2 separate regions of the Homo sapiens genome follow, and region 2 is linked to region 1. The links come from fine-mapping of genetic effects on gene expression. Tissue or cell type: blood mononuclear cells. Region 1 holds a variant in brackets; the other region holds the start of a gene. All regions are shown on one strand. Distances are from middle to middle.

What was found. PIP is the estimated chance that this variant, and not a neighbour inherited with it, causes the effect.
Region 2: AKR1C8 starts here. The variant in region 1 is fine-mapped to the expression of AKR1C8 in blood mononuclear cells (TOPMed, PIP 0.96).

The regions. Positions count from the first base shown.
Region 1 is chr10:5,113,699-5,118,855 of GRCh38, forward strand. It overlaps a transcript of AKR1C8 not described here. Among named protein-coding and RNA genes, the nearest start is that of AKR1C3, 22 kb to the left of the region's middle. The variant G/A (reference allele first, on the strand shown) is at 2,621.
Region 2 is chr10:5,182,409-5,187,565 of GRCh38, forward strand. It overlaps AKR1C8 (aldo-keto reductase family 1 member C8), which reads right to left and starts at 2,742. Exons shown (of 9, transcript NM_001395972.1): 1 at 2,604-2,742. The coding sequence starts at 2,696.

The DNA of each region.
Region 1 (5,157 bases):
TAGACTGGATTAAGAAAATGTGGCACATGTATACACCATGGAATACTATGCAGCCATAAAAAATGATGAGTTCATGTCCTTTGTAGGGACATGGATGAAATTGGAAATCATCACTCTCAGTAAACTATTGCAAGAACAAAAAACCAAACATCGCATATTCTCACTTATAGGTGGGAATTGAACAATGAGAACACAGGGACACAGGAAGGGGAGCATCACACTCTGGGGACTGTTGTGGGGTGGGGGGAGCGGGGAGGGATAGCACTGGGAGATATACCTAATGCTAGATGACGAGTTAGTGGGTGCAGCACACCAGCATGGCACATGTATACATATGTAACTAACCTGCACATTGTGCACATGTACCCTAAAACTTAAAGTATAATAATAATAAATAATAATAATAAATAATTAAAAAAAAAGAAATGCTGGAGGTAATACTTCAGTTGAATAGAAGGAAGTAGACAGTAACTCAAAGCCATATAGAGCTATAAACACTTCTAGTCTATGTAAATAAATATATGGCAAAATATGAAAACATGTATTTTTGAATTTTTGGTTTGTATTCTATTTTTCTTCAGAATTTAAAACACAGAAATAAGTATAATTATTTGTTAATATGTACACAATATATAATGTCCTAATGAGTGACAAAAATAATATGAAATGGGAAAAAAACCTGGGAAAATTAGTTTTTATATGAAATGGAAGTTAAATTGATGTTGATTCAATGTAAATTGTTATAACTCTATGAAGTTGTATGTCATCCAGACAGCAACTACAAAGATAATAACTGTAGAATACACTCAAGAGGAAATGAGAAGGGAATCCAAATGTCATTTAAAAAATTACACAATCTCACAAAATAGTAGTAATGACGGATATGAAGGACAAAAGCTATAGACATGGAGAAAAACATTAAAAATGGCAAAAGTAACTCTTTTCCCGTCACTAATGACAGTCATGTGTCATGTAATGCCTGGCTATCTTCTTGAGAAGGGCTTTGTTAGGTAACTTTTTCATTGTGCGAACATCATAGTATATAGATAATTCTCTCAAACCTTGTCATGATCTTATCAGCGATCTTTATGTCATATTCTAAATCCTTTGTTTTCATTTCAACATTCTTCATAGCATCTTCATCAGAAGTGAAATCCATTTCACCAAACCACTTTCTTTGTTCATCCATAAAGAGCAACTTCTCATTTGTGAAAATTATATGAGACTGCAACCACTCAGTAATAGTCAGTTTTCAATCTAATTCTAGTTCTCTTGCTATTTTCACCAAATCTGCAATTACTTTCCCCACTGAAGTCCTGAATTCCTCAAAGTCATCCATCTATGAGGGCTGGAATCAACATCTTCCAAACTCCTGTTCAAGTGTATATTTTGCCCTCCTTTCATGAGTCACGAATGTTCTTAGTGGCATCCAGAATAGTGTATTAGCGTTCTCCAGAGGGACAGAACTAGTGGAATATATATATATATATTTAAATATATATAAAGGGGAGTTTACTAAGTATGAACTCACGTGATCACAAGGTCCCACAACAGGCCATCTGCAGGCTGAGGAGCAAAGAGAGCCAGCCCGAGTTCCAAAACTGAAGAATTTGGAGTATGATGTTCAAGGGAAGGAAGCATCTAGCACAGGAGAAAGATATAGACTGTGAGGCTAGGCCAGTCTCTCCTTTCATGTTTTTCTGCCTGCTTATATTCTAGCCATGCTGACAGCTGATTAGATTCTGCCCACCCAGATTAAGGGTGGGTCTGCCTTTTCTAGCCCACTGACTCAAATGTTAATCTCTTTTGGCCACACCCTCAGAAACACACCCAGGATCAACATTGTATTCTTCAATCCAGTGAAGTTGACACTCAGAATTAACCATCCCAAGTCTACCCTTTGTTAACTTGAACCCATACACATCTCCTGAGATCATACATAGTATTCAAATAAATACAATAATAAGGTCATAATTATGCCTAATACAACTATCCTTCCTACAACTGGAAACGCACCAATCCTCACCCCAAATACTATTACATAAAGTAAACAATACTTAAATGCTGATGTGAAGTCAATAAATCTTATGTCACATGATAAAGAAAATAAAATGAAGATTTTTTTTAGTACAAGTATATACATGCACAAATATGGTTTTAACAAAAGGAGGAAATACTCATGACAATTACCGTCCTCTTTTCTGCAGTTGGTCACATGGTCATAGCCAGTATTGATGACTACCTTCTTCTACTACCCAGTATGCATACCTATGTATACCTGATATACAAGCACCTCAGCAGGTCATGTTTTTTTCCTGGTGGAGTGACCCAAACCTTCATTTTTGAAGGATCTGGGTCACTTGTAGTCCTGCTGGATTGGGCTGTTGTAGTTTCCCATTGACCTTAATCACACAGCATGGTAATACTAAGCGACGCCCTAATGCATACTCTTCCTTACCTCTGTTGTGAAGTAGTAGACTGATTTCATCTTGATAGCCCGGGTCAATCACCCCAGCCAACACTGTACCTCCCTTCTTACCCTGTTGACTTAAAGGTAGGAGGAACCCAAAGTGTCCAGATGACTGTCTTTCAGTTTAATGGAATTGTCATTGTGTCTCCC[G/A]GTGGCAGCGTTCTTCCCTCTAGAACTAAGATCTCTAGGCCAGCAGAAGGTGAAGTCACGGGAATAGGAAGCAAAAATTTTGTTAGTGGATCACTAGGAGTTATGCTGAGTGGTGCCACTTCCACTTCCACCCCTTGATTCCTGGACCGTGAATCCTGGCTATGAGAGAAAGAGTACTAATACATTGGATGCTGATTCAGGGCATACACAGCCTTCTGGAGAACTTTGCCCCATCCCTGCAAAGCACTGTCACCAACTTTCTAATCATGCTTCTTCCAAGTCCCTGACCACCCAGCCAAAATATTGGCTACAGGCCATGAATCACTATATAATCACACATCTGGTCATTTCTCCTTCCATGCAAAGTGCACAACCAGGTGCACTGCTTGAAGTTCTGCCCACTGGGAAGATTTCCCTTCATTGCTGTCCTTCAGGGATGTAGGACATCAAAGGGGCTGTAGTGCTGCAGCTGTCTGCTTTTGGGTGGCCCCTGCGTATCATGCAGAACCATCTGTGAATGACTTACAAAATACAGTAATTCTTGATCACTGGAAATGTTAAATCCTGGAAAGCGTAGCATTCGTATGTGTGATGTTAACATCATTTTCCCACACTTGTTGGCCGAAGATTCATTTGATGAATCCAATCTCTCCAAAATAGATGATTGTGATGATTCGTAGAATTCTGATGTTAGTTCTCTTTAGAAATAACTCTAAGAACAGTTTTTACATTTTTACATTGAAAATAAGTCAGATTTTCTTCAGCCTCAAAAAGTGTGTTTATGTAAAATTAAATGAGCACTGGCAGTGAGCTTTTTTTTTTTTTTAAACAGGAAAAGGGTTAAAAGGTGCTTCCTAAACATGAGTCTACAAAATAGCCACATTTAATTCACCGCTTAACCACTTTTAAATGTTAGTTTCCTGAGCCAAAATGAGGATTCAGGAGCAAACAATGAGGTAGCGGACTTGAGCTGCCCTCAGATAACAAGACCTATTTGTACATTTGGCTCCAGGGTGGTCTTCAACTATAGGAGATACTGGTTCATGGAGATATGGGAAGAAACATATCCACCCTCAATCGAGGATTTCTGAAGCAAGCCAGGACCTGGGGTAGGATTGATACCCTCCAGATTGTCTCCAATTTGGAAAACTTTGTCACAAATGGTATGTCTGTGATTATCAGGTATTAAGATCACCCACTCAGGACATGCTGGTTCTAGGTGTGTAGAGAAATTAGAAACTGTCTTAGTCCATTGTGTTGCTATAAAGGAATACCTGAAGCTGAGAATTTATAAAGAAGAGGTTTGTTGGCTCACAGTCTGGTGGCTGTACAAGAAGCATAGCATTGGCATCTCTTAGGCCTTTGGTGAGGTCTTCAGGCTGCTTCCACTCATGGCAGAAAGGAAAGGAGAACCAGCATGTTCCGAGTTCACAGAGTGAGAGAGGAAAGCAAGAGAGGAAAGTAAGGTGCCAGGCTCTTTTTAACAAGCAGCTATGAAAAAAGTAATAAAGCCAGAATTCACTTGTTACTGCAGGGAGAGCACCAAGCCATTCATGAGAGATCTGCCCCCATGACCATAATGACTTCACTAGGCCTCACCTCCTACATCGAAAATTCAGCATATGGTTAGGAGGGTCAAATATGCCAACCATAGCATTCTGCCCCTGATCCATAACCTCATGTTCTTCTTACACGCAAAATGTAGCCATTTCATCCCAATAGTTCCCAAAAGTTGTGACTTGGTCTAGCACCAACTTAAAATTCCAAAGTATAAAAATTCATATCAGACTCAAGGCAACTTCCTGCCAGTTATGAGCCTATGAAGTCAAAAATAAGTTATTTACTTCCAAAGTACAACCATGTTATCCATTGTGGGTAAACATTCCTTTTTCAAAAGGGAAGTTAACCAAAAAAAGGCAGGGGTAGGGACAGGGGAAACAGGACTCATGGAAATCAGAATTCCAGCAAAGCAGACATTAAACTTAAAGTTTCAAGGTAATTTCTGTTGACTTTATGTCTTGTACAACCTATGTGTCTAGATTCTTCTTGGCCTAAGTAGCATTCCTTCCTTCTGGCTGTGGGGCAGGGCCTTCTGTGAAATGGGAGTCTTATGACCTAGAGTCAAACAAGATAGGTCAGATAATTATTGTTATGGCCATAATTTACACAGAAAGGTGGAGGGAAAGTTAGAGTAGTATCTTTAGTTTTTATGGCTGGCTTTGGGAAAAATGGATTCTGGTTCCTATGACCTACCTTGGGGAAGAAAGATTCTAGTTTCTGTAACTAGTTTAGAGGAAAAGAGGATTGACATATAAGAGGGCGAGAGAAGCTCATAGAAAAACTTTTGCTTCTGAAGCCTTTATTTGGGGCATTGTTTGCTGAGTCCTGGCATTAATAGAGTTGTATGTTGGTTCTCTTATTAATCTGCCAATCATCAATTGATTTTTAGTGAAACATCAGAGAGCAAAGGGGAAGTTTTCCCTTGGCCCCTATAGCTGCCATTTGACTGGAGGGAGATATTTTGTTTTCTTTCTATT
Region 2 (5,157 bases), 69 kb after region 1:
ACCTATAATAAATAAAGAATGTCACTTTCTAACAGGCTCAAGAACCCTATATTCTTGGGACCTCAAAAAGAGAAAAATTGACCCAACTCATAAATATTTGAGAGTACAAACCCATGACTAGACTCAACTTTAAACTGAGGTATTATTATCTGAGGTTACTTATGGAATAGAATTCCATCAAAACCAATTTAAAAACCCTATATAAAATAATTATTGTAAGGCCAGGTGTGGTGGCTTATGCCTGTAATCCTAGCACTTTGGGAGGCCGAGGCAGGCAGATTGCCTGAGCTCAGGAGTTCGAGACCAGCCTGGGCAACATAGTGAAACCCTGTCTCTACGAAAATACAAAAAATAAGCTGGGTGTGGCAGCATGCACCTGTAGTCCCAGCTACTCAAGAGGCTGAGGTAGGAGAACTGCTTGAACCCAGGAGGCGGAGGTTGTAGTGAGCCGAGATCATGCCATTGCACTCCAGCCTGGGCAGGAGAGCAGACTCTGTCTCAAAAAAAAAAAAAATTATTCTTACTATTCTTTATACAGATAATCAGACCAAATATGAAACTAAAATTTATTTTACAAACAACTCAGTACTATCCTATCATGACTTGTTTTTGACAAAAATAAGAACTAGAGAGAAAAATAGTGTGTCAAACTTGCCATACATTTGTTATTAAATTCTAGTCTCACTAATTATTTTTAAATGTTTACCTACATTTTAGACTAACCCTACTTATTCTTATGAACTAACCAACAATCTCTGACTACAACAAAAAATAAAAACAGTAAAAGATAAATAATATAAAATTTAGAACAATATTCTAGTTCTGAACAATTATCCTACAAATCCTACCAGGTCATAGGAATATATAGAATACCCATAATCCAGAGGTTGCTTTATTTGAGAAAAGAAGACCAAAAAAACTAAGCAAAACCAAGCTCCATACACCGAAATCGTAACAGACATAACTATAACTACCAATTATCAGGACGTATCAACAACCTCAGAATTTTTAAACTATCCTTATCCCCCCTTATTTCATTTTAATACATGTACTCTAATAGCCCAAATTATTTCTTCTCACATAAAAACTATCAAACTCTAAATGGTAATACTAATAACACCACACATAAACATATCTTTCTTCCAAAGATCATTAAACCAACCCCAGGAAGAACTCTAACTACTGTTCCCCACATGACACCACCATCCGACAAAAAAATAGCCAGAAAAGTCAACACCCAATCTCCCTGACAATTAGGGACTCCACTCCTGAGGGTAAAAATGAGAGAAAAAACTTAAACAGTTAGAGTGAGTTCTTGGTAAAACTCCTTTAAACAGAGAAACAGCTTGAAAAAAATCAGACTACACACACAGATAAGGAAACTTACACAAACCTCCAGCTCACTCAGATAAAAAAACAAGGCCCAACATCAAAATGCCTTTGTCCTTTATGCCTAAGACATGGCAACAACTGCACTCATATGAGAACAAGAACCAACAGAGAAACACATTTGTCTTTTGTGTAACCAACAGACTTCTAGGAAAGTCTCTTTTTCTTTTGTGGGCATGTATATGGTGGGCTCCAGTGGGCTCTGGTGGGCACTTTCCTTTCCTTTTGTGGACATGTGGACCGTGAGATGAGCCTTTATGAATTATCATTCAGCATCTGACTGCTCCTGGGCCAAGGTCCCAGGCCAAGCTATCACTTCAACTCCTGATTGGTCCCAGACCAAGGTCCCAGGACAAGCTGAGTTACACTTTCTCCAAGACCAGTCAACAAATTCTTTTCTTTCCCAGTCCATCAAAACCCTAGACCTGACCTCATAGTTAACAATCCATCCAGGCCCCCTCTCTACTCGAGAAAATCTTCCTTCTTTCACTTATTAAACTTTCACTCCAACCTTACCCTTTGTGTCCACAGTCCTTAATTTTCTCAGTCATAAGACAAAAAACTTCAGATAATCCCTCAAAATGAAAGACTACTATATTTTTAATACATTGATGAGACTGTAACAGAATCGCAGTGGCTTCTTATATAGCAAAAAGTTTGGATGGTTGAAACTCTCTGGCAAATACTTCCAGCCCCAATAACCTCACAGCAAAGCTGCCACTAAGTATTCATTTTGGCTTTTGATTCCTCCTGGGTCCTTGGCCCTTCACATTTCTAACCAAGAGTAGAGTGGCTCTGACCAGAGCAAAAGATGAGAACAGTCTGAGCTTGCATTTTTAAAACGTAACAAATTTTAATGAGTACTTACCTAGGCCAGTTGTTAAGGAATTAAATAAGATAATGCATGTAAAACACCTAAAATACATGGAAAGCATTTGATATATTAGGTAACATTGATACTTTTAATAGAAATAAAGATAATATACCCACAAAATTATCAATCTCAGAATCCCCACAATCAATAACTTGCCATGCCACTTAAAGCAAAAAAGATCTCTGTGACCTTGAGAGGAGCAAGTTAGAGACAGTTAAATGAAATCCCAGATGAGCCCTTCCAAGCATCCACTGTCTACCCAAGTGCAGGGCTCTTGCCTGATGACTGCCCTGCAAGTACAGCTGACCTAAGAAACTTCAGCCTCCTGGGGTCCACTTACATGATCAGGAGCATAAGTGCCAAATCCCAGCACTGGCATGAAGGGTCCATCATTCAGCCTCACTGAATGGCTTTGCTTCAGATCCGTCATCATCCCCAGCTAACCTGTCTTTCCTCCTTTTCCTCACTGACAGCCCAGTAGGAGACAAGGCTCCTGCGTTCTTTATTTGCACCAAATGCAGGATGGGCGGGATGGAGATGACAGCTGCCAATGATTTCAAAATGAAACTGGAATCAGTCCAGTGCCTTTTCTCTGATTCTTATGTCTCTGTGGGAGTATTTTACAGAAAACTCACTCAGAAATGCTGTGAATGCCAGAGGACTTTGATTTTCTCCTCCGTGTTGTTCACACTTGATTCCTTAGTTGAAAAATGAACCACACCAATTTGTCCTTGATAAGTACACTAGACTTCCTTTACAAGAGGCAAAGTTATTATTAGGGTGGTCATTTCAAAACACTAATTCTACTACAGAACTGAAGTTAACTTTCTCACTTATATTTGATTGTTAATCCCTTTAAAACAGCTTATTAGAATTCCTTGAATAACGCTTGAGGCCTAGTGCCAGCCATGCATGTAATGAAATTTCTTAAGAACACCCACCCCTATTCCCAGTATATTTCCCTCCTGTGTCAAGCCACACTCCATTTTCTCTGACTTGTTTCCTTGAATGTTTTGCAGAAAAAACTTGTCTGAGATCATGGATACATTTCTATGCTCTTGCCTTTGTTCCAGCCATTGTCTCTTTTTAGAACAGCCTGCTTAACTCCCTCCTGGTCTCCAGCGGGTTTCTTATCTTTTACTTATCCTAAAAGCACCTCCTACAGTCTAACATCCTTTATGACTCCTTCTTTTTATTGTTGTTTTTTGTTTGTTTGTTTTGAACAAAGATAGGAGATAGCAAAGCAGCCTGGGTCTTAACAGAACAGCTTGGAATTCCAGGGCCTAAATTGCTTTTGCAAACATAAACACACACACAGCAACCATGAGAAAAATGAAAATTAAAAATGGCTTCCAATTCAGATGCCAAGAGGCTCAGCCTAAATGGCCTTCTGCATAATTCACTTTGGACACTTTCATCCTCTGTAGGTGAGGACAACAGGTCTGGACCAAGGTTAATACCTTAAATGGTTCGAAATAACTGACTTTGGGCAGGGTGCAGTGCCTCATGCCTGTAATCCCAGCACTTTGGGAGGCTGAGGTGGGCGGATCATGAGGTCAGGAGGTCGAGACCATCCTGGCTAACACGGTGAAACCCTGTCTCCACTAAAAATACAAAAAATTAGCCGGGCGTGGTGGTGGGCACCTGTAATCGCAGCTACTCAAGAGGCTGAGGCAGGAGAATGGCATGAACCCGGGAGGCGGAGCTTGCAGTGAGCCAAGATTGCACCACTGCACTCCAGCCTGGGTGACAGAGCAAGACTCCTTCTCAAAAAAATAAAATAAAATAACATAACATAACAGACTTTGAAATAATCAGCAGGGTAACCAGTTATTGCTAAAAACACCTCTTCATCTTTTTTTTTATTTTTTTCAAATTTTAAGTAATAGATTTAATTATCACATTATGAAATACTATAAAAAGAGAAGATGACTTCTTCTATAACCTCCCTGGGTGAGGTTGACCAGCCTTCTCTGTGTGCCTCTTATTCTCTTAGCTTCTATGAAGCAGGTCAAAAAAAATCACATCATTGAAATTACACTCTCCACTAATAAGGAGCTTCTGCTAGATAAGATGCTTAAGTGGTATTTTCTTTGGTGTTTTTATTATGCGGTGCTTTCTCCAACATGTATTTGTGCCATTGGTATCTTAGAGGCAATCCTGAAACATGACGTTGTCATTTATCTTATTTTGAACCCATAGCTCTGGCTGCTCAAGGTCCGAATTCTGCCTGATTCTGATTCCCTGTAGTTTATAATTATCACAACATTGTATCAGTTATAAATCTGGCAAGTATACTATTTATATTACACTGGTAAAACTGTAGAACCCTACAGAGATGGGGTTAAGTTCTGTGTCAAGTCACAAAAAAAGCATGTCTATTAATGGTAATAGCCTGAAGCTCATCATTCACTAGATTAAAAATTTGTCTAACATGTTTGCAATATTAACCTGTATTTTGCACTAAATGGTTTACCCAAGTAAGAGACATTTCTCTGTCACTTCCCTAATTTAGCAGTCTAGGAAATTTGTTAGTGAAAGAGAGTGTGCCAATTTTATTCTTAGTAAATCCAAAGCAGGGCTTCATGCTCCCTTAAACTTGCCTTAAGCATTATCCTAAAACATTTACAGATTTGACGTCATGCTTTGTAGCAAGCACTTTTCAGAATCCATCTTCCCTAACTGGAAAGGTGTTCGTCCATGGTTTCCTGGCACTATTTTTACTTCCTCAGGTTTTCAAAAGCTACCAAGGATATGAGTTGCTCTCAGGGAGCTCATGGTTTATTGGATAAGAGGTGGGCAGATGGCAAATTGTTCCCCTGTGATCCCTGCCTCCTGGTATTTATGGCCCTGTATAATGTGTATAATGCCCTCTCATCAACTGTGACTAGTAC